Linked DNA regions of Homo sapiens. The protein of the gene in region 1 purifies or fractionates together with the protein of each later gene. This does not show direct contact. Each region holds a gene or a part of one and is shown in the gene's direction. Other genes may lie near its edges.

Region 1 (3,500 bases):
TCAAAAAAAAGAAAGAAAAAAAGAAAGATTGTCCCTTCCATTATAAAATGTAGTCTTTCAGAAGATTTCCCTACATAAACAGGCACTTATATATCTTTTCATTTTTAACAGAAATAAGATTATTTTATACATTTTTATATACATTTGGTAATTTGCCTTTTAATACTTGATAATACTTTTGTATTTTGATGCCAGTGTTACTTGATTTTTATATGGTTTATTGTGACACAGTAAGTTCTTAGCATACACTTATTACAAGTCCCTGTCTACCCTCGTACTGACTTCTTTCCCTTTTCCAGTCCTGCAAGTCAGATTACATGCTCCACCTTTCCACTCCTCCAACATAAATATCTCATGTAGTAAAAGTCAGGTATACCGCACTAAGGGCTTAAGATGACACATTAGTTCTTCAATTCAATGCCAACTTTATGAAGGGTGTCCTGAGACATATACAGTTAGCTTTTTTTTATTTTTTAATTTAGAGAGACACTCTCTGTCGCCCAGGCTGGAACTCCTGAGCTCAAGTTCTCCTCCCACCTCAGCCTCTCAAGCAGCTGGAGCCACAGACGTGCACCACCACTCTAGGCTAATTTTTTTTTTTTTTTAATTTTTCGTAGAGACTGGGTCTCACTATGTTGTCCAGGCTGATCTCAAACTCCTGCCTCCAGCAATCCTTCCACCTCAGCCCCTCAAAGTGCTGAGATTACAGGTGTGAGCCACCATGCCCAGCCACAGTCAGCTTTTGAATGCATCGTTTCTTGCATGAAGTGAGGTGCTCCTAACTCATCAGCCAGTGTGTCTGCCTGCCATATCTGTGTAATCTCTTTGCCACATTCAAGAGCAAATAACTACATGCACACACATGTCCCTGCAGGCACACATACACACACATGGCCCATTCGAGTGTGAGCTCCTGGCTAAGACCGTTTGGTTCATCTTGGTAGCTCTAGCTCCTAACACAGTGCCTGGCCGTCAGCACAGATCTGTGTGGTCACAGCCCTCTCGGAGCTCCGGTGAGCACAGGCAAGGAGAAGGTCCTAGCACAGGTGTCTGCTGCCAAGTCATAGTAACAGGAAGAGCTCTAGGAGCTAAGAGCAGGGAGAAGCCACTTTAGGCGGAAGTGGCCCGGGAAAGTGGACCGTGGGATCATGGGGGTGATCCCTTTAGAGCTGTGCTGGGGGTGGAAGGGCGTGATGCAAAGACTGGGCTTTGGGAACCAGTTTGTCGTCAGTGGGCAGGGCCTCAGAAGGAGGCAGAGCCGGAACCCAGGGCTGCCCCTGTCTTGAGAGGCCTGCAAGTTGAGGTCAGGGGCTCCTTTTCAACATAAGTGCCCATTGATACTGCAGAAGCCCCTGTGAGAATGGGTCCTTTGTGATCATCTGTGTCTGTAAAGAAGCTAATAGTCTGTTGCATCTTGGGATAACACATGTTCTTGTGTTCAGGGTCTCGACTCTGAAGACAGAGTTCCTGCCGCTCCTAAGTGTGTCATTTGTCTCAGAGAACAGCGTCGTGGCTGCTGTGAGTATTTTTCTTCATTCTCCCTCGGGGTGCACTGTATGTGATGCTCAGACAGGGAACAATGTGTGCTCTGTCACCCTAGCACAAAGCAGAACAGTTTTTTAGAAGAAACAGAGCTCACTTTTTTTTTTTTTTTTTTTTTTGAGATGGAGTTTTGCTCTTGTTGCCCAGGCTGGAGTGCAATGGGTGATCTTGACTCACCGCAACCTCTGCCTCCCGGGTTCAAGCGATTCTCCCGCCTCAGCCTCTCGAGGAACTGGGAATATAGGCATGCGCCACCATACCTGGCTAATTTTGTATTTTTAGAAGAGACGGGGTTTCTCCATGTTGGTCAGGCCGGTCTCGAACTCCCATCCTCAGGTGATCCACCCACCTTGGCCTCCCAAAGTGCGGGCATGAGCCACCGTGCCCGGCCTCAGAGGTCACTTTTTTTTTGGAGACTGTCTTGCTCTGTCGCCCAGGCTGGAGGGCAGTGGCGCAATTTTGGCTCACTGCAAGCTCCGCCTCCCGGGTTCACGCCATTCTCCTGCCTCAGCGTCCTGAGTAGCTGGGACTACAGGCGCCCGCCACCTCGCCGGGCTAATTTTTTTTATTTTTAGTAGAGATGGGGTTTCACCATGTTAGCCAGGATGGTCTCAATCTCCTGACCTCGTGATCCGCCCACCTTGGCCTCCTAAAGTGCTGGGATTACAGGTGTGAGCCACCGTGCCCGGCCGCTCACTTTTAAGAGTAAGAGGGGGTGGGGCACGATGGCTCACGCCTGTAGTCCCAGCACTTTGGGAGGCCAAGGCGGGTGGTTCACTTGAGGTCAGGAGTTCAAGACCAGCCTGGCCAACATGGTGAAACCCCGTCTCTACTAAAAACACAAAAATTAGCCAGGCATGGTGGCAGACGCCTGTAATCCCAGCTACTTGGGAGGCTGAGGCAGGAGAATTACTTGAACCCGGGAAGCAGAGGTTGTGGTGACCTGAGATTGTGCCACTGCACTCTAGCCAGGGCAACAGAGCAAGACTCGGTCTCAAAAAAAAAAAAAAAAAAGAGTAAGAGAGGCCTGTCGTGGTGAACACTCTGCCAAGGAGGTGGGCGGTGGGCAGTGCATCCTCCAGGGACTGACTGAGTCTTGTTTCAGGGCCATGACTGCTGCCCAATGCTCTTTAACTACGATGACCGCGGCTGCCTGACCTTCGTCTCCAAGTTAGATATTCCAAAACAGAGCATCCAACGCAACATGTCTGCCATGGAACGCTTCCGCAACATGGACAAGAGAGCCACAACTGAGGACCGCAACACGGCCTTGGAGACGCTGCACCAGAATAGCATCACGTAGGTGCCGTCTGTAGAGAGGTGGTCAGGTGACAAGGTGCCTTCCTGCCCCTCGCTGTTTCCTTACTGGGTTCCTACAAAAGCTCTATGCCCCTCAGGCCCAGACATTCTTTCAGGGACAAGTGCAGCAAGAAGTCTGTATCTTCCCGACCGCCAGGCTCTCATTTCCAGCTCGTGGTAGGGAGGGAGTCGCCACCACCTGGTCATTCTGTCCTTCAAGGTGCAGATTACAAGGCAGCAGCCAGCAGGAGCAGTGCAGACCTTGTTGCAATCTGAGGTGGTGGGGCCTCAGGGCAGCTGCTTCCTAGGGTACCCTTTCTCAGCTACTCGAGAACAAAAGGAGACATTCCTGAATGCTGCGTTCCCACAGTAGTGCACACATAACAGAAAGCGAAGTTACAGCCTGTTGGAAAAGGTAACTGTAGCTGTCGTTTCAAGTAATGGATACAAATAAGAAGATTATTTAATTAAAGGAACAGAATTTCTTATCATCATGATGACAAAGCTGAGGAGTGTCTCGACTGGGTTTTCATCAGGTATATGTAATTATGTAAGACAACAGAATTGTGTTTTGTCCAGAAAGTTTAATTTTTTTTTTTTTTTTTGAGACAGAGTCTCACTCTGTTGCCCAGGCTGGAGTGCAATGCCACAATCTCGGC
Region 2 (3,500 bases), on another chromosome or scaffold:
GCATAGTATAAGCATAACTTTTAAATTTGTGTGACTGGAAGTGCCTGTATTAAACACTGGACATTTGGCTAGGGACACCTGAGAGTGTGCCCAGAGGAGAGTATTCTAAATGAAGATGCAGTTAGAAGTTGTGTCATATGAAGAACAGTGGAAGAAAATGGGGCGTTTCTTAATTCAAGTATTTATTGTTTAGTAGTAGTTTTGGATTTGTTACAAGCACATTGTGGGTTTATTTGAGTTGTTTTTGAGGCACAGAATTATATTAAAATATTCAGTGTGCTCTTGTAAACTGTGCACATCTCCAGTCACATTTCTCCTACTTCAGAGATTTATATATCAAGTAGAAATCACTGGTCTAAGGAAGGACCTGCAAATATTTGAAAGACTGTGATCCATAGGCACTCGTAAAAGAGGAGCCTCATTCCACGAGGCTCTGGAATACAGAATGAGGATGATGGATGTAATTAGAGGGAAGAGCTGGATGTCTCTCCTTGTTGCCATGTAGGGAACAGTGGTTTCCATTCAGGAATGAGACAGGCTGTTAATTAAGGTAATGGGTTTTCCTTTTTTTTTTTAAAGACAGGGTCTCAGGCTGGAGTGCAGTGGTATGAGTATGGCTCAGTGCAGCCTCAACCCCTGGGCTCAAATGATCCTCCTGCCTCAGCCTCCTGAGTAGCTGAGACCACAGGCACACAGCACCATGCCATCTTTTTTTGTAGAGATGGGGTCTCACTGTGTTGCCCAACGCTAGTCTCAAAATTCCTAGGCTCAAGCAGTTCTCCCACCTCAGCCTCTCAAAATGCTGGGATTACAGGTGTGAGTCACCGTGCCTGGCTGGTAATGGGTTTTCTGTCAAAATTGTTCAAGTGCAACAAGGTGACTTTCAGAAAGCTGGAGGGTAGATTTTCCAACTTTTGTTTTTAGTGAAGGAACCCTTTTTCAGGTAAAACTGTGCAGAAGGCCTAATTGCCAGTCACACAGAAATAGAGCTGCTCTGGTTTATTTGGGATTGGTAGAGATGCTGAGCCCTGCTACTCCAGGTTTGCACTGTATAGTGGAAAAGTCTGTTAGACTTAGATGACTTGTGAGGGCCCTTCTGACTCTAAAATTGTATAATTCTAGGAGGAGATTGGGCATAGGAATTAAGATTTACTTCTCTAACCTAGTTCAGTAGCTTTTAACAAAATAGCTTTCTGCATTTATTCTTTCCTTTAGTTACTTAAGATGGCCCAGGGCCATAGGGTAGAGACTGAGCATTATGAAGAAATTGAAGACTATGATTACAACAACCCTAACGACACCTCCAACTTTTGCCCTGGATTACAGGTAAAGGGGGGAAAGGGGCTCTGTCCTCTCTTCTAAGCCAGGGAGTCGTTTTTCTCTGCTTCTCATGTCCCCATTTTATATGGTGGGAGACTGTTGGCAATTTTGAATCCAGTGGAGGTTTTCTGGGTAAAGGGTCTGCCTTCCACCCAGTGCAGGGAGCTGAGCAGAGTCAAGGAAACAGCCTCACCTTGGCCTGCCTTACCTCACATCCTACATGCAGGAAGCAAATGGCCACACTCAAGTGAATGCGTCGACATGTGGATGGGTGTTTAGCCTCTGCTACAAAGTACTAATCTTGGCTGTTGTGGGATTTCAAAGGAATATAAACACTTTGTCCTCTTATGAGCTAATATTTTGGCCAGGTAGACAACCAGATCACACCATATGTGATCTGGTGTGGCAAAAAATAAGTCTTCGGGGTGTATCTCAGATGACCAGATTTCTAGCTGTGAATGCAGTTCTCATATTGCAAGCTTGCTGTGAACTTGTACAAGCCACCCCCCATCTTTAGATCACGGTTTAGACTAAATAATTTCCATATCCCTTCTCTGAGTCTACTGATGAGATGGCTAATACAGGTAACAGAAACTGGAAAAATAGGCTTCATCTGTGTCCCTGTATGTGGAAAGGGGGGAACGAACTGGAAAAAAATGTATTCACCTTATTTTCTTACTTAGGAAGAGAGTTAGGCTGTTATATTTTAGTGAAAATCCAGACTGACCTCTTGACTAGTGCTTCTCAAACTTTAACTTACATACAAATCACCCAGGGAGCCTATTTAAGGACTGATTCCTGACCTGTGTCCCCCCACCCCACCCCCTGCCCGAAGATACTGATACATTCACTCTGGATGTGATCGCAAAAATGACTTTCTCACCTGCTTCTGGGTGGTATGCCTGCTACTGACCAGATGGCCCCAGGAATCTCCTGTGCTTTCCTTGGGTGATATGTTCAGGTCATATCTCCGGTATTTGAGGAATGTTTCTGTAAAATGAAATCCTAAATTTGTTAGAAGCTGAAGGGGGGACATAGTGGCAATTATGGTTATCGAATTCCTTTTAACTCCCGCTCAAAAGGTCTTAGGTTGATAACAGACACCTCTCTAATAGGGTTTACGTGAAACAGGATGATAACTAGAGGCACCTAGAAGTTCATCGTAGTGTAACTCACTGAGTGAACCATCAGATGGTCTCTTCTTGCTTTGTAAACATGGAGTCTATTTCAAGGGTGTTTCTGAGCTCCTCTGCAGCGTCCACCAAACTCGAAGAGCTGTTTCTTGCCCAGGCTGCTGACAGTGATGATGAAGATTTGGATGACTTATTTGTGGGACCTGTTGGGAACTCTGACCTCTCACCTTATCCTTGCCATCCACCTAAGACAGCACAACAGAATGGTGACACTCCAGAAGCCCAAGGATTAGACATCACAACATATGGGGAGTCAAACTTGGTAGCTGAGCCTCAGAAGGTACGGATGAAACAGCTGAGAATTACATTGTTTGCCTGAAATCTATTTAATTGTCTCTTATATGAGAGTCACGCAATCTGAGCTTGATTTCTTTTCTTCTCAGTTTTAACCTGTTGCTCTCCAAGTTTTAAATAGGGTTGTGGGAGTGAGCTGATGCTAATTAGGTTTGTGTGGAACTGACCATCTCTCCAAAGACCTTGATAAGACATGTAACTAGGGAGGAACTGGTCACCCAAATAAGGCATATGAATGAAGGCTGCAGGCAGAGAATATAAATTTATATGCTAATTCAGCAAGGCTAGCTAGCTAGCTGTGTGGCTCTGAAAAATCTTGGCCAAATTCAGTTTGTATTAAATTATCATGTATTAAACATTTATCTCTTCCATACCAGGTGGCAGGCTTTATGCTTGCCTTTATATTTGATTCATTTATCTCTTTTACACTGGAATTCCAGTTAGCCTTAATGTAGATTGCACTGGATTGAAAAGAAATTAGATTTGATATGAGGGACTCTATATAGTGTCCAAAGAGAGCTCTGGGCTGGGCGTGGTGGCTCACGCCTGTAATCCCAGCACTTTGGGAGGCCAAGGCGGGCAGATCACGATGTCAGGAGTTCGAGACCAGCCCGGCCAACATGGTGAAACCCCGTCTTTAATAAAAATACAAAAATTAGCTGGGCATGGTGGCAGGTGCCTGTAATCCCAGCT
Region 3 (2,562 bases), on another chromosome or scaffold:
GTTCTGTTTTGTGTGACCAGCACAGTGTTTTAAAACGTTGCATTCTGAATCCATCTTTTTGAAATGGGGCATGTACTCTTAAGGTGGCCACTAGCTTACCATTCCCAATTTTTCTTAGTCTCAAACATTCACATGTTTTTCAAGGCCTTGGAGTTGGCAAATCCTGAATATATAGTGAAGGTAGGAAATAGCTCTTCTTATGCCACATCTTAGTCTGATTTTGAAGTCAGTTGTGTAAGTTTGGGCTGACAGTGGTATTTTCCAGTGAAGACTATCGCCAAGAATGCATATCATTCTGCTTATTTTATTCTAGTGGATAAAAATTCAACGTATATTTAAGTGTATTTTTGACATCTGTGCTTGTCCAACACAGGGCTGTAGGGACTGATGAAAAGAGAATGTTGTGATTTGAGCTTTTATAAAAAAAGATAAGTGATCCTAGATAAAATATTTTAGATGGTGATTAAAATGCCCATAGATTAATTTTTTAATCGGTTCTCTGAAATCTTGAGATGTTATCCAAGTTACAATTTAAGCAATGAGAGTAAAATTTGAATTCTAAATTCTCAGCATCTTCCCTCATTCTTGAGTGGAGAGACAGAGGAAGCAAACGCCAAGGAGCCTTCTAATTTTGACTATATGATCATTAACTAAAGGCAGCAAGGGATTGTAAACTAATCTTACATAGTCAATGTTTCATAGAATGCTTTGGTTACAATCAGGTTTTTTAAAGACTTTAAAGGTTTTTTGTATGCTATAATATATGCTTATGATTTCTAAAAATTATGCAGTATACACAAAGGGCATAAAGTCAAAAAGTGTGTCTCCCTCTGTGACTTTATTCTCATACCCCAGAGGCATATAATTTCTTGTATTCTTGTGTAGTCTTTAAGAAATGTTATCGTTTATTTTATATATGGCTCTCTCTCTGTATGCCTCTTCCTGTTCTTATTTTAAATGTTCAAGTTTGTGACTTGGTTCTTGTTTAACTTGGTTGTCTTTCCATATTGCCACCTTCCAGCTCTAACATTAATGTCTCCAGGATTCCATTATATGGATGTCCCTTTGGGAGAACATTTGTTTATAGACTTTTCTACTAAAAATATTGTTATAATGATAATATCCTTATGCATATATGAAGATTACTCTTGATTCTGCCTGACTGGAAACTTTATTAATAAAGTAGACATTATTCTATTTTGAGGCTCACCAGCTGTGTAGGTATGATCTTGTGCTTCCATTTAAGAAATTCTTCCATTTAAAGAAGAAAAAAAATCTCTCTGACTATCTGAAGATATATGAAAAAGCCTATGCTTTTAAATTAAACTGTTAAGACAGTCCATTGAAAGATTGTGGAAGTTCACATCTATTTTGCACCTTAATTTTTTCATTGTCCCTACTCATGACTCTAAAAAGTGCATGGCTTGGGGCTATACTTTGTTTTGCAGTTTGTTGGTATCGTGCCTTTCCTTATCTACATTAGCTTAGACTATACCTTATTTTTAAGAAGAGAAAGTGGAAATTAACTGTGGCAAAACCTATTTTGGCACAACCACATTTGTTCATTATACAAAATTAGCTTCCTATGCTTTAGAAAAAATGTGAGTTATTACTCTGAAAGTTGTGATTCTGATTCCTCATGGTTTGGAGCTCAGAAATTTCTTAACATGTCTTTGCTGTTAGTCAAGCACAGGATTTGTTTTCTGCAAAAGTTTATTTTCAATGAAGAATACTTGTCCTAATAGCTCATAAAAAGTACCTTTGCACTTTAAATCCTAGGAATAGGGAACAAGGAAACTTACTGGGAAGTTCAAAAGAAAGAATAACAGGACCTTCTAGTCAGCAGGGCATGTTTGGAAAATGTTAATACGCCATGATTTTTGAAGACCAATTTTAGTTCAGGAGGTGGTTTTAAATATTGGATGAAAACTTACAGGCTGTTTTCAATATTCATTTCTGAAATACTTTAGTATGATAGATAAATTTGGTTAAGTTCTTGTTCATTGTGAAATACTGTTGGAAGAATTTTTTTCAAAATAAAGACTTCTGAATTTGTGTACCATTTGGGAATAGCCTCTTTCATTTAAATGAGTGTCAAATCTGGAAAATTGGAAGAATATTTGTTCCTTTCATCACTCACATTATGCATTTCTGTAAAGCAGCTCATGCATTTACTTCCAGCTTAACGTGTTTTCCATTAATTAATAAGTTTTGCCATTTTTTTCTGTATTTTTCAATTAAAAAGTCTTCATTTTTAAAAAGCAGGATCTATTTGTTACTTAATTTGCAATATTTTTTTTTCAAAGATGGATTTTTTTTTTTCTGGAGTACACATTGATGGAAGTTGGTTTTAAGAAAGCATTGTAATGGGAATTTACCTACCTTACTACTGTTGAAGTTTAGAAGGTAAATGCTGAACTGTGTTTGTCACATCCCTAATCTTATTTCTCTGTAGTGGTCACTGACTATTATTTGTTATGAGTCCATCTTGATTATTCTGTACATCTTGTTTAAATTATTTTCACTAACCATCACCAGAACACAGAAGAAAATTTTGTTTCC
Region 4 (3,500 bases), on another chromosome or scaffold:
CTTGCACTCTCAGAAGATCCACCAAGACGGAATGGCGTTGGTCCCAGTTCTGTCTGCATAAGCCCCTTTATTTCCTTGTTCCACACCCATTGATATTCTTTGTGGGGGGGGGCTGGGATTTCAGGAGTCTCCTCTTTGTTTTCCCTTGGGCCCCTGTGGGAAGGGAGTGGTCCCTGTGCTCACCCCTCAGGGCAGGCTGGGGTTGGATCCAGCTGGTAGCGAAGACAGCCCGTCAGGGAGCTGTCCAGGGCTAGGGCCATCACAAGGGTGGACCTGCTCTAACTCAGGAGGCCTGCGTGGTGTCTTCTGCCACCAGGACGGCCAGACCGGCCCCGGGACCTGGAGCTGACCGACCTGGCCGAGAGGAGCGTGCGGCTGACCTGGATCCCCGGGGATGCTAACAACAGCCCCATCACAGGTAGCTCAGGGCCTTGCACCCCAAAGCTGGAAAAGAGGGACGGCAACACCCTTAAACCGAAGGCCTTTCCTGGTTTCCAGCCCCACTTCTGCCTCGCTTGATGTGTGTCCTGGGCTAACCTCAGAATGTACAGAGGCCTTGGTGTCTCTTCCTGTGCCTTGGGAAGAATTCTCCTTGTGCCTTTGTGTGAGAGAGATTATAAAGATCAATGGAAGCCAAGAAGGAAGTGCTTTTAAAGAAGACCACTGCTAACTGAGCTCCCGAAACAGCTCTGTTTTCCTTGCCCACTCAGACTACGTCGTCCAGTTTGAAGAAGACCAGTTCCAACCTGGGGTCTGGCATGACCATTCCAAGTACCCCGGCAGCGTTAACTCAGCCGTCCTCCGGCTGTCCCCGTATGTCAACTACCAGTTCCGTGTCATTGCCATCAACGAGGTTGGGAGCAGCCACCCCAGCCTCCCATCCGAGCGCTACCGAACCAGTGGAGCACGTGAGTACCCGAGGGCTGCCAGAGAAGGCTCCGGAACCCCGCACCCCAAACTCACACTGAGATCCCCCCATTCCCAGCCATGTGAACTTAGGTTACTTAACTTCTCCAAGGCCCGGCCTCATCTGTGAGGCAGAGAGTAATAATAACACCTACATCACAGAGCTGTTGTGAACATTTGAGAATGTGTGCCAGGTACTTACTATGATGCCTGGCATGTAGTGAGCACATGATAAATGCTAACTTCCATTTTTATTATTAGTAATTCTTGATTATCTGCTTTAAAGGGGAGAGCTGTGGCAAAGAGGTACAGCAGAAATACATAATTCAGTGTGAGAAATATATAAATTGGTATTACATCAGATTTCTTTTCCTAACACTCTTGGGTAATATTTGGATTTCTGAAATCACACCAGCTCATAGAGGGTAGAGATGCTGCCCAAAAAAAATGTTAAATGCCAGGGATAAGCCAGTCTGGTATGAAACACATTTAGTGGATAATCCACAAAGGAGCTAATCCACATTGAGTTGGCTTACTGACCACCCACAGTGTGGAAAGCCTTATGATAAATGCTGTCTGGTAAAGGATTAAAATTCAGAAGAAATTAGCCCTGCTCTGGGAGTTTAAATCTCAGCTCAAAAGGCACATCATGCACAGAGTAAGCTCATTTACATACCAGACCAAGCGTATACATAGATGCCGAGGAAAGACAGAGCATAGAACAGACCCATCAGGTAGGACAGAGGAAGGTTCCTTACCTTGCCCTGGAAAGGCACAAATTGGACTTGAGCCTGTGTCTGTTTGGGTTCCAGCCCCCGAGTCCAATCCTGGTGACGTGAAGGGAGAGGGGACCAGAAAGAACAACATGGAGATCACGTGGACGGTAAGAGGCCCTCCCAGCCCCAGTGGAGCAGCTCACCTTGCCGCATGCACCGGGAGCCCCTCTCCCTTGATGCCCCGACACTACGAGGCCATGATGTGGTTCAGACTCTCTGGCTGGTCTTGGTGGCCATTCTTCTTTGAGAAACCAAGCTCCTCTCTGAGTTGGGCATCCAGAAACCAAACAGGACAAATGTCTAAGTGTAAGATTTCAGAGAGGAGACAGGAGCAGAGGGGACCAGGGTCCACCGACTGCCAGTCTAGCAAAACGCATAGAGGATGCAGCAAAATCAAGCAGACTTCTCTTGAAGGAGGAGGGACTGGGGTTAGACTTTAGAAAAGATCTAAGCACAACACCAAACCAAGTTCTGGTGTGTCCTAGGGCCCTTTCACTGGAGATTTGTGGGAGCTGGGGAGAGACCAACATCTGAGATGTGTCCAGTACAGGCTTTCTTTTGGTCCAAGAATGGACTAGGTCATTCCAAAGACTCCCTCTGGTCTTAGAAAATCCCATCTTCATGCTGGCTCACTGACTACATTTTCCAAACCAAAACTGGAGTATGTGGTCTCAAAATGACTTTTTTCCCAAACCACTTCCCAGTCTGAGAATGCAAACGCAGCCACTGAAATATTAACATTTCTGAGCTTCTGCCATGAGTAATGGAAACTGGGAGATGCAGTGTTTGGGATCATGACCTTCCCTGTCTTTCTGAAGGCTGCTCCCACAGCAGCCTTGGCCAAACAGGGCAACGGCAGCTGGGCTGAGCCCAGATTCAGGACCCTGGTCTGTGGCTCTGTATAGCAGGCTCCAAGAGGACTGATTCCTGGGCCAGGCCCTTAGAAAATAAAGAGCAGAATCACACCCATGTTTAAAGAACTCTGACCTCTTGGGAAGGACAGGACAGACACACACAAATTCGGTAGAACTAAAGTCCATTCTGGAATTTTGAGTTCATTAGCAGGAGCCATGCTGTGGTTAACCACAACTCATTTCTTCTGACTTTGGAGAAGTTTACCTTTTGTCTATATTTTGCTTTATTGGTTGCTCCTGTCACAGGAAGGAGTTTTGTTGAAAATAAAACCTTTGCACCTACAAATGCGGGTGGCTCTCAGAGTCAGAGTAACTGGGTCTCAGGCGAAGCCTGTGTCACAGAAAATCTGCATGCTGCTGGGTTCACAGGACCTTGGGCTTTTGGGGGACTCACTGGGGTGGGGGATATGGTCTTCCCTACCCTGCAAGGGGGCAGGCCAGTGTTGGGCACATCTGGAAGGGATGCCTGGCACAGCAAGAGAGGGCAAGCTGTGGGTGGATCTGGGCCCCTCTCTGGCAGCCTCTCCAGCCTGTCTGTCCCTCTGCCCAGCCCATGAATGCCACCTCGGCCTTTGGCCCCAACCTGCGCTACATTGTCAAGTGGAGGCGGAGAGAGACTCGAGAGGCCTGGAACAACGTCACAGTGTGGGGCTCTCGCTACGTGGTGGGGCAGACCCCAGTCTACGTGCCCTATGAGATCCGAGTCCAGGCTGAAAATGACTTCGGGAAGGGCCCTGAGCCAGAGTCCGTCATCGGTTACTCCGGAGAAGATTGTGAGTAGTCTCCTCCCCGTCCCCCCATCAGGACCCTTGTGGCTAGGTCGCACGAGGCCACGCTCACAGGCCAGGAACCTTGGGGTGGGTATGGGAGGACAGCCAGTTCCCAGGAAGGAAAAATGTTCTGT
Region 5 (3,500 bases), on another chromosome or scaffold:
ATCACTGCAGAATGGGCTTAATGGAAGACAAATTTTTAAAGGAAAAATAGTGACTGATTTGTAAAAAAATTAGATGACCGAAATTTTAAGCACATATTACTGATAGAGTGTTGATACCACTGGCAAAATGAAAAGGCAAGGAAGGATGATGGCTTCCATGTTGGACATGTTGAGTTTGTGGTAACGGCAAGAAAACCTGTTAGAAATCTCCAGACTTAGAACTATGGACCCACGTGGAACTCAAAAGGTCAGTTTCGATATGTCACTTGAATAAAATAGTTTTGAAGGCATGAGAGTAGAAAAGTAGAGAATGGAAAGCCTCTCAAGACCCTGCTGTACATTTTGAACCTCCTCTTTTCTTTTTCTCTTCCTAAGTATTACTTTTGTCTACTTCAGGTTCGCAATATCATCTTCAGAAAAGCAGACCAAAGATCAAGGAATTGTTCATTTTTGGCTTGAGCCCTTTTTCTTTTCTCTTTAGCTCTGTGAGTTTGTGCAGAAGGATGAGTTGAAACCAGCAGTGACCCAGCTGCTGTGGGAGCGGGCCACCGAGAAGGTCGCCTGCTGTCCTCTGGAGCGCTGTTCCTCTGTCATGCTTCTTGGCATGATGGCACGGTGAGGCTCAAATCTAGCAGGCAATGGGGTGGGAGAGCAAAGGAAGGTTCTGAGAGGGCTCCTTTTCCTTCAGTGACATTGTCACAGTGAGGCCCAACTGAGCTCTGCTGTGAGTTATAACGCCACCTAAATGGAAAAGCAAATAGTGAGAGGACCAGCCCTCCTGCCTAGTAGTAGTGGGATTCAGTAAAGCAACAGGACCCAAGAGGCTGGCCCTGCGGCAGAGCCACGCTATAGTGCTCCACGGCTCTAGACACCACATGAGGTGCTGGTACCTACCCCTATTGGCCCTTTCTCCCCCGATGAGTCCAATCCATGACTGCCTTTAACTCTGTGGCTTCCTTCCCCTAGAGGAAAGCCAGAAATTGTGGGAAGCAATTTAGACACACTGGTGAGCATAGGGCTGGATGAGAAGTTTCCACAGGACTACAGGCTGGCCCAGCAGGTGTGCCATGCCATTGCCAACATCTCGGACAGGAGAAAGGTATGTGGGGGTGGTTCCAAACTAAGGAGAGTGGAGATTCTCGTGTCCACCCTGTACACACACCCACGTTGTCTTGCTCTCCACAGCCTTCTCTGGGCAAACGTCACCCCCCCTTCCGGCTGCCTCAGGAACACAGGTTGTTTGAGCGACTGCGGGAGACAGTCACAAAAGGTGAGCTCTCAGGGAAGGCCTTGGGCAGAATTGGGCCCTTTGTTGCAGTAAACAACTTCTCCCTCCTCCTCTGCAGGCTTTGTCCACCCAGACCCACTCTGGATCCCATTCAAAGAGGTGGCAGTGACCCTCATTTACCAACTGGCAGAGGGCCCCGAAGTGATCTGTGCCCAGATATTGCAGGGCTGTGCAAAACAGGCCCTGGAGAAGCTAGAAGAGAAGAGAACCAGTCAGGAGGACCCGAGTAAGTGGGCAGGGGTTGACCCACTGCGGCAGCCAGCTTCTGTTCTCCCTGCAGGGCCAGGAGCCACTGCCACCACCACTATCTGCAACAACCCTTAGTGTACACTGTGTCGTTTTTGTCTAAGTTGAAGTTGGGCCAGTTCCCACCCCCAACTCTTACTACTTCACTAGTTTGAATAGCACGTGAGCAAGGGGAAGATCAGTAAAAATCGGATTCAGGTTTGATGGGACTTAAAAATGTCTCTTTGCCCCACCTTCCCTCTCCCTCTCCTCCAGAGGAGTCCCCCGCAATGCTCCCCACTTTCCTGTTGATGAACCTGCTGTCCCTGGCTGGGGATGTGGCTCTGCAGCAGCTGGTCCACTTGGAGCAGGCAGTGAGTGGAGAGCTCTGCCGGCGCCGAGTTCTCCGGGAAGAACAGGAGCACAAGACCAAAGATCCCAAGGAGAAGGTGTGTGAATGTCCTCAGCACTTCCCAGATTTATTTCATACCTCAGCTCAGAACTGAGCTGATCCCCTTCCGGCAATCTCTGCTCCTCTGCTATTACATGAAGCGAAGAGTTTCTGCCTCTCTGTGGCTACTACCGTAGGAAAGGTTCGTGTGAACAATGACGAAACTGTCAGTGATCACCCAGGAAGGAAAGATTTAGGTAAATGCAGAGTGTGGAGTTAGAGACCTCAGCATAAAACAGAGGCTTTGTGTCTGAGGCAGGGTTTGTTAGAACACGCACGTACCCGCCGGCCTTTTCCATCAGCTTCCATTGCTGGCCTGGCCCCGGATGGGGCCCTGTGTTCCCTCCACTAGAGGCAATGATGTCTTGCAGACAAATAAGACACAGAGCCTTGCAGCGCTGGAGAAAAGTCTGACCTCTGTGACTTTGAACCATTGTCTGGCGTGATCCATCTGTTTACCATATATAGGAAACGATGTCTTCCATGAGGAAGAGGTGCAGAAACACGCTTTGGCAACTTAAAACAAATGGGGACCTCATTGTTCCCCTGCTTAATTCAGGAATCCTTTCTCTTTACAGACACATTTGACAATTCTCTAAATGTTTTTGTAGAATTTGCCCTTCCTCACTTTGTTCATGCAAAACAAAGTATGGGCTGGAATCAAAAATGTTGTCTCTGCTTATCCATGATCCCCAATTTCATTCCCTTTAGAATACGAGCTCTGAGACCACCATGGAGGAGGAGCTGGGGCTGGTTGGGGCAACAGCAGATGACACAGAGGCAGAACTAATCCGTGGCATCTGCGAGATGGAACTGTTGGATGGTAAGAAAAATGGCTGCACTCAGCAGTTTCTTCCCAATTAAGATAACCTGTCCCAAACCTGCAGTTACTCTTCCAACAGGCAAACAGACACTGGCTGCCTTTGTTCCACTCTTGCTTAAAGTCTGTAACAACCCAGGCCTCTATAGCAACCCAGACCTCTCTGCAGCTGCTTCACTTGCCCTTGGCAAGTTCTGCATGATCAGGTAGGCCGTGGGGTTGGTACCCCCTTCTCAAGGAAGATGGGGATGAAATGGCTTCCCTAATGATCCTCTTCTTGCTCTTAGTGCCACTTTCTGCGACTCCCAGCTTCGTCTTCTGTTCACCATGCTGGAAAAGTCTCCACTTCCCATTGTCCGGTCTAACCTCATGGTTGCCACTGGGGATCTGGCCATCCGCTTTCCCAATCTGGTGGACCCCTGGACTCCTCATCTGTATGCTCGGTAAGAGACCCCTCACAACGTGGTGGCAGTTCCCAGGAGCCCCGGAGTCTGTTGAGAGTCAGTGTGAGAATCACCAGGGCTCTTCCCCTAGGCTTTGGCATCACCGCGAACATCTGCTTGATACTTGACCTGTACAGGCCCCTGGCTAAGAGTCACCCCAGTGGGACTGACACTTCTGGTTAGAAGCTTCACCTCTTTCCCCCACTCCAGCTTTCAACTCTAGACAGCTTTCTGACTGCTTCTGGAGTGGCAGAGCATGGGATAATTGATTCC
Region 6 (3,500 bases), on another chromosome or scaffold:
ATTCTCCTACCTCAGCCTCCCGAGTAGCTGGGACTACAGGCATCTGCCACCACGCCTGGCTAATTTTTGTATTTTTAATAGAGATGGGGTTTCACCATGTTGTCCAGTCTGGTCTTGAACTCCTGACCTCAAATGATCTGCCAGCCTCGGCCTCCCAAAGTGCTGGGATTACAGGCATGAGCCACCGCACCCAGCCATTATGTGTATTTTACCACAATTTTTAAAATGGGAAAAAGAAAAAAGCAAAAGGTCGAGAATATTCTTTAAAGACGAGCTCAAATTGGGGACTTACCCTATAAAAAATCAAGACAGTATAAAGATTTAGTAGCTAATACCACGTTGTATGGTACAAAGATAGTCACACAGACCACGGGAACAGAATAAAACCCAGAAACAGACAACCCAGATATCTATGAAGAATAGAATGTCTATCATATATTGGAATGTCTTGCCACGTGAAAATGAGTGGACTATAGCCACATGCATCAACATAGATGAGTCTTGGCCGGGCGCGGTGGCTCATGCCTGTAATCCCAGCACTTTGGGAGGCCGAGGCGGGTGGATCACAAGGTCAGGAGATCGAGACCATCCTGGCTAACATGGTGAAACCCCGTCTCTACTAAAAAATAGAAAAAATTAGCTGAGCGTGGTGGCGGGCGCCTGTAGTCCCAGCTACTCGGGAGGCTGAGGCAGGAGAATGGCATGAACCCGGGAGGCGGAGCTTGCAGTGAGCCAAGATCGTGCCACTGCACTCCAGCCTGGACGACAGAGCGAGACTCTGTCTCAAAAAAAAAAAAAACAAGACCAAAAAACATAGATGAGTCTCTGGCCCGTAACTCTGAGTAAGAAGTAGTCACAGAATGATACATATAGAATGATTTCAGAAAGTTTTAAAACAGGCAAAATGAAACAATATACTGTTCAGGAATACATACACAAGCAGTAATTCATAAAGAAAAGCCATGGGCCAGGCACAGTGGCTCATGCCTATAATCCCAGCACTCTGGGAGGCTGACGCAAGAGGATCACTTGAGCCCAAGAGTTTGAGCAAGCTTGGCCAACACAGTGAGACCCCGTCTCTACAAAAAAATAAAATTAGCCAGTGTGGTAGTACACACACCTGTGATCCCAGCTACTTGAGAGGCTGAAGTGGGAGGATTGCTTGAGCCCAGAAGTTCAAGGCTGCAGTGAGCCATGATTGCACCACTGCACTCCAGCCCGGGTGACGGAGCGAGACCCCGTCTCGATAAAAAAGAAAAGCCATGGAATTATTAACACATGATAGTAGTTATTTATAGGGGTCCCACGTTTGTAGTGCTCTATTTCTTAACTTGGGTTATATAAACTCAAATGTTTATTTGGCAGTATTCTTTAGACTGCGTTTGAACATGTGTCTGTATTTTAAAGAAATGATTTATGATATAGTTACACAAAATACTGTACCTGTCTAGTCACAAAGACTGGTTTGGGCACTTTACTTGTTCCAGAACTGGAGCAGGATTAAACTGGTCGAGGTCAATCTTTTCTATTTGCCTTGCATTTAGTGGGGTTAGATTTCAGATAACACATTTCTATAACTTTACATATATTTTATTAACTTTTTTCTCTCTTTTGGGTCTTTCTAATAGCTTCTTGGAAGAAATTTTATTTTGTTTATCATCTTTGGCACCATGGAAGAAATGCAGAACAAAGCTGTGGTTTTCTTTGTGTTTTATTTGTGGAGTGCAATTGAAATTTTCAGGTGGGTAGAAATGCCAGGATGGTGTTTGAATGCTGCTCCCTGTTTGCAGCAGCTCTGTTCTTGAGGGAGTTGTTATCTTAGCCAGAGTCTCATTTGGTTTGGGACTAAGATTACATATGTGGAGAATTCTGGTTGCACCTATGTGCTCTGCAAAGTTGAGACAGATTTTTTTAAAGCCGTCATTGGATCATAATACCAGACTGGATACTAGGGAGCAGAAGAGGAGAACCAGAGAAAGGGAAGACTCATCTTACCATGACTTCAGGATCTTGCAGTCTTGGAAAGAGAGGACCCATCCACATGGAAAAATTCTTGAAAGGGCTGAAGAAACAGGAGGTTGAAGGAGCAATCCAGGTTGGATAGAACTAATTTAAGACTAAATTTCTACAAGGGATGATAGAAATGAATCTTATACCACAAGATTATTGAAGTTTGAAATGGCCTCTAACCCAATTTTCCCGTTCTCGGTTGTTAGTAGCATAAATATCTTTTAAGAAATGGATCTAGTTAAAGTAGATGTATTCTTCTTTACCAGACCATACACACTCCATATGTCTTCCCTTTCAGTCAGCTGGAGCAAGGATTTTGCAAATGAACTTCTCAGCTCCAGGTTTGGTGGTATTTTGACAAAGTTGCTAGTTGAGAGAGAGAACAGGCCATAGCAGCCTTAAATTGTGTCTTAACCATGGTCTGTGTCCCATGGCACCCAGTGTACCCTCTAATAGCCTTAATACAAAGGTAAAACAGATTATAGGTCCTATGTTTTTCAAATCAGACACGTAATGTGCTGATGTAACAAGGTTTGAGGGAAGCACATCTCACACAGGAGAGTGAAAATCCAGTTATCACACTTATGAGCTATAAAAGGATCAGATTATGGGTCCTTAATGCAATGTTTACTGTTTGAGAAGGAACATTTATTTTCTCAAGGGATGTCTTTTAAAATAGCATATGTCTGATTCTAGATTAGAGGTCTTCTGTATACTTTAATTTTGGTAACAACTCACTTATCCAGAAATAAAGTATCTAATATCCTTACCCACCGGGAATGTATATCAGCACTAGGAATAAAGCCAAAAAACATCTGAGTATCCAGTCCGTTTACCGAATAAAGAGGGTTCCTTTGAGACCTAAACTTAGTCTGCCATTAAAGAGCGTTCAGATCCTTTGAAAATTTAGGGCGCAGTGTGGCAGGAGTTTATGGGTTGATAGCCAGCGTTATAATTCTGTTCTGAAGAAGCCATGTGTGGCTGAGAAATAGAATTCTTCTATTTAAATGATATTCTAAGGTTGCATTCGGAACCTGAAGTGGCTTTTCACATTGGAATCATTTATTTTCAATAGGTACTCTTTCTACATGCTGACGTGCATTGACATGGATTGGAAGGTGCTCACATGGCTTCGTTACACTCTGTGGATTCCCTTATATCCACTGGGATGTTTGGCGGAAGGTACTCTCAGGGACTCTTAGCTTTCATAGCTTAGCTCCAGGGGGTACCCAGAGGCTGAGAGACCAGTCCTTTCTTCCCCGGCCTTAGTCCGATAAATGGAAATGTTGGATTTTTCAGGGATTTCTTTCCATGGGCTTCCTTCCATAATACTCCTGGTACCCAGACTGTTCGAGAAAAGTAGCTCATTTTGTAACATTGGAAAGCCAGGTGGTTATGTCCTGCATGCTTCCCATTTGTATGATGCTTTTAGTATTCCAAAGGGGGTTCTTACTGATGACTTTATTTTATTCTGACAAACATCTCATACA
Region 7 (3,500 bases), on another chromosome or scaffold:
CCTTTGCCCCCTCCTGTCATTGCATTTAGAAGAACTAGCTGGTTTTTGGAAACAATATTGAGTCCTCCAAGACAGTTTTCTTTCACAGATAAGAAAACAGATTGCAGCCAGGCATAGTGGCTCACGCCTGTAATCCCAGCACTTTGGGAGGCTGAGGCGGGCAGATTGCCTCAGGTCAGGAGTTTGAGACCAGCCTGGCCAACATGGTGAAACTCTGTCTCTACCAAAAATACCAAAATTAGCTAGCTGTGGTGGCAGGCACCTGTAGTCCCAGCTACATGGGAGGCTGAGACAGGAGAATCACTTGAACTCAGGAGGCGGAGGTTGCACTGGGCCTAGATTGTGCCATGGCACTCCAGCCTGGGCGACAAAGTGAGACTTGATCTCGAAAAAATAAATAAATAAAAAATAGGGCGTGGCGCGGTGGCTCACGCCTGTAATCCCAGTACTTTAGCACTTTGGGAGGCCAAGACGGGTGGATCACGAGGTCAGGAGATCGAGACCATCCTGGCTAACACGGTGAAACCCCATCTCTACTAAAAATACAAAAAATTAGCCAAGCGTGGTGGCGGGCTCCTGTAGTCCCAGGTACTCGGGAGGCTGAGGCAGGAGAATGGCGTGAACCCAGGAGGCAGAGCTTGCAGTGAGCCAAGATTGCACCACTGCACTCCAGCCTGGGCAACAGAGCGAGACTCCATCTCAAAAAAAAAAAAAGTAAATTGCAAGGAACACAAGTCTAGAGTTAGAGTTCTGTTGAAATTCTTCCACAGGGCAATGAGCTGGGATGAAGACAACTGAATTGCAGAGTATGAAAGCTTCAAGATTACTTTGCATTTCTGCTGTGCGAGAACGTTAACAGTCATAGACAAGAAGTATAAGTAACTGTCTCAGCACTGCTGAAACCAACTGCCAGATATCAAGACCCTGGGATTTTGACCTTTTTAAAATAAGAAGAAGAAAAACAAAAAATTGCCAAACAAATTGTGTCATGAGATCTGTCTTTGTCAAGACAGTATTTCTGGCTTTTGTCCGTCTAGAGCTACCTACAACAGCTTGTACAAGTATATTTTAAGTCATAGTTTTCATAAAAAGAAAGATGTGTATCTGAACCTCAACATGTTCTAAATAATTGAGTTTTTTTCTGAAACTATAATATGTAAATTCAAATAAAATTATATTGAATACTTTTTATTTTATTTAATTATATATATTTTTTATTATTACTTTTTTGAGATGGAGTCTCGCTCTGTCACCCAGGCTTGAGTTTGGTGGAATGATCTCAGCTCACTGCAACCTCTGCCTCCTGGGTTCAAGCAATTCTCCTGCCTCAGCCCCCTGAGTAGCTGGGATTACAGGCACGTACCACCATGCCCGGCTAGTTTTTGTATTTTTAGTAGAGACAGGGTTTCTCCATGTTGGCCAGGCTGGTCTCGAACTCCTGACCTCAGGCAATCCATCCGCCTCAGCCTCCCAAAGTGCTGGGACTACAGGCGTGAGCCACTGCGCCCGACTGAATACTTTTTATTTTTAGGAAGCAGTTAAAGTTAGTCTATGTCTCAGTGTTTTTTTATAAATGCATTGAGAGACGTCTTGAATAATGTTCACCAAATGCTAATGGTAGTTATTTTTGGGGAAATGGGAATTAAGGTGACAATTAAAAATTTTTTTTTTGCCTGGTGCTGTGGCTTATGCCTGTAATCCTAGCTACTCAGGAGGCAGGAGGATCACTTGAGGCCAGGAGTTTGAGACCAGCCTAGGCAACATAGTGAGACTGCATCTCTAAAAAAAACTTTTTTTTTTTTTTTGGAGACAGAGTTTTGATCTCGTTGCCCAGGCTGGAGTGCAATGGTGCAATCTTGGCTCACTGCATCCTCCACCCGCGAGTTCAAGCGATTCTCCTGCCTTAGCCTCCCGAATAGCTGGGATTACAGGTGCCTGCCACCATGCTTGGCTAATTTTTTGTATTTTTAGTAGAGGCGCAGTTTCACCATGTTGGCCAGGCTGCTCTCAAACTCCTGACCTCAGGTGATCCACCCGTCTCGGCCTCCCAAAGTGTTGGGATTACAGGCGTGAGTCACTGTGCCCAGCCATCTTTAAAAACTTTTCTTTAAAAATTTTATTTAATTTTTAAAGAAAAAAATTAGCCAGGCCTCATGGTGCATGCCTGTAGTCCCGGCTACCTGGGAAGCTGAAGCAGGAGGATCACTTGCGCTCAGGAATTCAAGTCTGTGGTGAGTTATAATTGTACCACTGCACTCCAGCCCGGGTAACAGAGCAAGACCTCTCTCTAAAAAATAAAACTGTTTTGATTGAATTTCATTTTCTAATGAGCATGTATAAGTTTTACGAAAACAATAAAGCTGTAAAAATAAACCATGTACTACTTTTCTATAAATATTTTCTGAAAATCCGGGGGTGGTGGCTCACTCCTGTAATCCCAGCACTTTGGGAGGCTGAGGCAGGCAGATCACGAGGTCAGGAGTTCGAGACCAGCCTGACCAACAAGGTGAAACCCCATTTCTACTAAAAATACAAAAATTAGCCAGGCCTGGTGGTACATGCGTATAATCCCAGCTACTTGGGAGGCTGAGGCAGGAGAATCGCTTGAACCCGGGAGGCAGAGTGAGCCGAGATCATGCCATTTCACTCCAGTCTGGGCGACGGAGCAAGACTCCGTCTCAAAAAAAAAAAATTTGGCCGGGCACGGTGGCTTATGCCTGTGATCCCAGCACGTTGGGAGGCCGAGATGGGCGGATCACGAGGTCAGGAGATCAAGACCATCCTGGCTAACACGGTGAAACCCCGTCTTTACTAAAAATACAAAAAATATAGCTGAGCATGGTGGCAGGTGCCTATAGCCCCAGCTACTTGGGAGGCTGAGGCAGGAGAATGCCGTGAACCCGGGAGGCGGAGCTTGCAGTGAGCCAAGATCGCGCCACTGCACTCCAGCCTGGGCGACAGAGTGAAACTCTGTCTCAAAAAAAAAAACAAAGGCTGGGCACGGTGGCTCATGCCTGTAATCCCAGCACTTTGGGAGGCCGAGATGGGCGGATCACGCGGTCAGGAGATCAAGACCATCCTGGCTAACATGGTGAAACCCCATCTCTACTAAAAATACAAAAAATTAGCGGGGTGTGGTGGCAGGTGCCTGTAGCCCCAGCTACTCAGGAGGCTGAGGCAGGAGAATGGCGTGAACCCGGGAGGCAGAGCTTGCAGTGAGCCAAGATCACGCCACTGCACTCCAGCCTGGGTGACAGAGCGAGACTCTGTCTCAAAAAAAAAACAAATAAATATTTTCTAAAAACTTTGTATTTCAATAGGATCATTTTATTTTATTCAACTCCACAACTGTTGACAGTTGTATGTGTTTTCCCTTTATGGCTTTGATAGTTGTTATGTTTTGTATTTGGCTAATGTTCTCTGTGCTCCTTCCCTTGTGTCCTGCTTAGCAAAAGATACAGATATTGTGGATGAAGCCATCTATTACTTCAAGGCCAATG

Evidence for each region.
Region 2: the proteins of ARPC1A (region 1) and NCAPH purify together in Homo sapiens (affinity purification with mass spectrometry; 3 studies listed by BioGRID and IntAct, with this or other methods). This does not show direct contact.
Region 3: the proteins of ARPC1A (region 1) and AGFG1 fractionate together in Homo sapiens (co-fractionation; one large-scale study listed by BioGRID). This does not show direct contact.
Region 4: the proteins of ARPC1A (region 1) and NFASC fractionate together in Homo sapiens (co-fractionation; one large-scale study listed by BioGRID). This does not show direct contact.
Region 5: the proteins of ARPC1A (region 1) and NCAPD2 purify together in Homo sapiens (affinity purification with mass spectrometry; 3 studies listed by BioGRID and IntAct, with this or other methods). This does not show direct contact.
Region 6: the proteins of ARPC1A (region 1) and HACD3 purify together in Homo sapiens (co-immunoprecipitation; one large-scale study listed by IntAct). This does not show direct contact.
Region 7: the proteins of ARPC1A (region 1) and ARPC3 purify together in Homo sapiens (affinity purification with mass spectrometry; 10 studies listed by BioGRID and IntAct, with this or other methods). This does not show direct contact.

The regions. Positions count from the first base shown.
Region 1 is NC_000007.14:99,356,898-99,360,397, forward strand, and holds part of ARPC1A (actin-related protein 2/3 complex subunit 1A), read left to right. Parts: intron 1-1,442; coding exon 1,443-1,518; intron 1,519-2,647; coding exon 2,648-2,841; intron 2,842-3,500. UniProt on the Homo sapiens protein: Probably functions as a component of the Arp2/3 complex which is involved in regulation of actin polymerization and together with an activating nucleation-promoting factor (NPF) mediates the formation of branched actin networks.
Region 2 is NC_000002.12:96,363,266-96,366,765, forward strand, and holds part of NCAPH (condensin complex subunit 2), read left to right. Parts: intron 1-1,215; coding exon 1,216-1,326; intron 1,327-2,610; coding exon 2,611-2,793; intron 2,794-3,500. UniProt on the Homo sapiens protein: Regulatory subunit of the condensin complex, a complex required for conversion of interphase chromatin into mitotic-like condense chromosomes.
Region 3 is NC_000002.12:227,559,156-227,561,717, forward strand, and holds the end of AGFG1 (arf-GAP domain and FG repeat-containing protein 1), read left to right. Parts: 3' UTR 1-2,062; downstream 2,063-2,562. UniProt on the Homo sapiens protein: Required for vesicle docking or fusion during acrosome biogenesis. May play a role in RNA trafficking or localization.
Region 4 is NC_000001.11:204,978,652-204,982,151, forward strand, and holds part of NFASC (neurofascin isoform 1 precursor), read left to right. Parts: intron 1-316; coding exon 317-418; intron 419-710; coding exon 711-908; intron 909-1,718; coding exon 1,719-1,789; intron 1,790-3,146; coding exon 3,147-3,369; intron 3,370-3,500. UniProt on the Homo sapiens protein: Cell adhesion, ankyrin-binding protein which may be involved in neurite extension, axonal guidance, synaptogenesis, myelination and neuron-glial cell interactions.
Region 5 is NC_000012.12:6,525,102-6,528,601, forward strand, and holds part of NCAPD2 (condensin complex subunit 1), read left to right. Parts: intron 1-481; coding exon 482-615; intron 616-966; coding exon 967-1,099; intron 1,100-1,185; coding exon 1,186-1,270; intron 1,271-1,346; coding exon 1,347-1,514; intron 1,515-1,789; coding exon 1,790-1,962; intron 1,963-2,675; coding exon 2,676-2,787; intron 2,788-2,866; coding exon 2,867-2,990; intron 2,991-3,071; coding exon 3,072-3,227; intron 3,228-3,500. UniProt on the Homo sapiens protein: Regulatory subunit of the condensin complex, a complex required for conversion of interphase chromatin into mitotic-like condense chromosomes.
Region 6 is NC_000015.10:65,568,463-65,571,962, forward strand, and holds part of HACD3 (very-long-chain (3R)-3-hydroxyacyl-CoA dehydratase 3), read left to right. Parts: intron 1-1,628; coding exon 1,629-1,741; intron 1,742-2,510; exon of another isoform or gene 2,511-2,611; intron 2,612-3,085; coding exon 3,086-3,192; intron 3,193-3,500. UniProt on the Homo sapiens protein: Catalyzes the third of the four reactions of the long-chain fatty acids elongation cycle. This endoplasmic reticulum-bound enzymatic process, allows the addition of two carbons to the chain of long- and very long-chain fatty acids/VLCFAs per cycle.
Region 7 is NC_000012.12:110,440,338-110,443,837, reverse strand, and holds part of ARPC3 (actin-related protein 2/3 complex subunit 3), read left to right. Parts: intron 1-3,449; coding exon 3,450-3,500. UniProt on the Homo sapiens protein: Component of the Arp2/3 complex, a multiprotein complex that mediates actin polymerization upon stimulation by nucleation-promoting factor (NPF).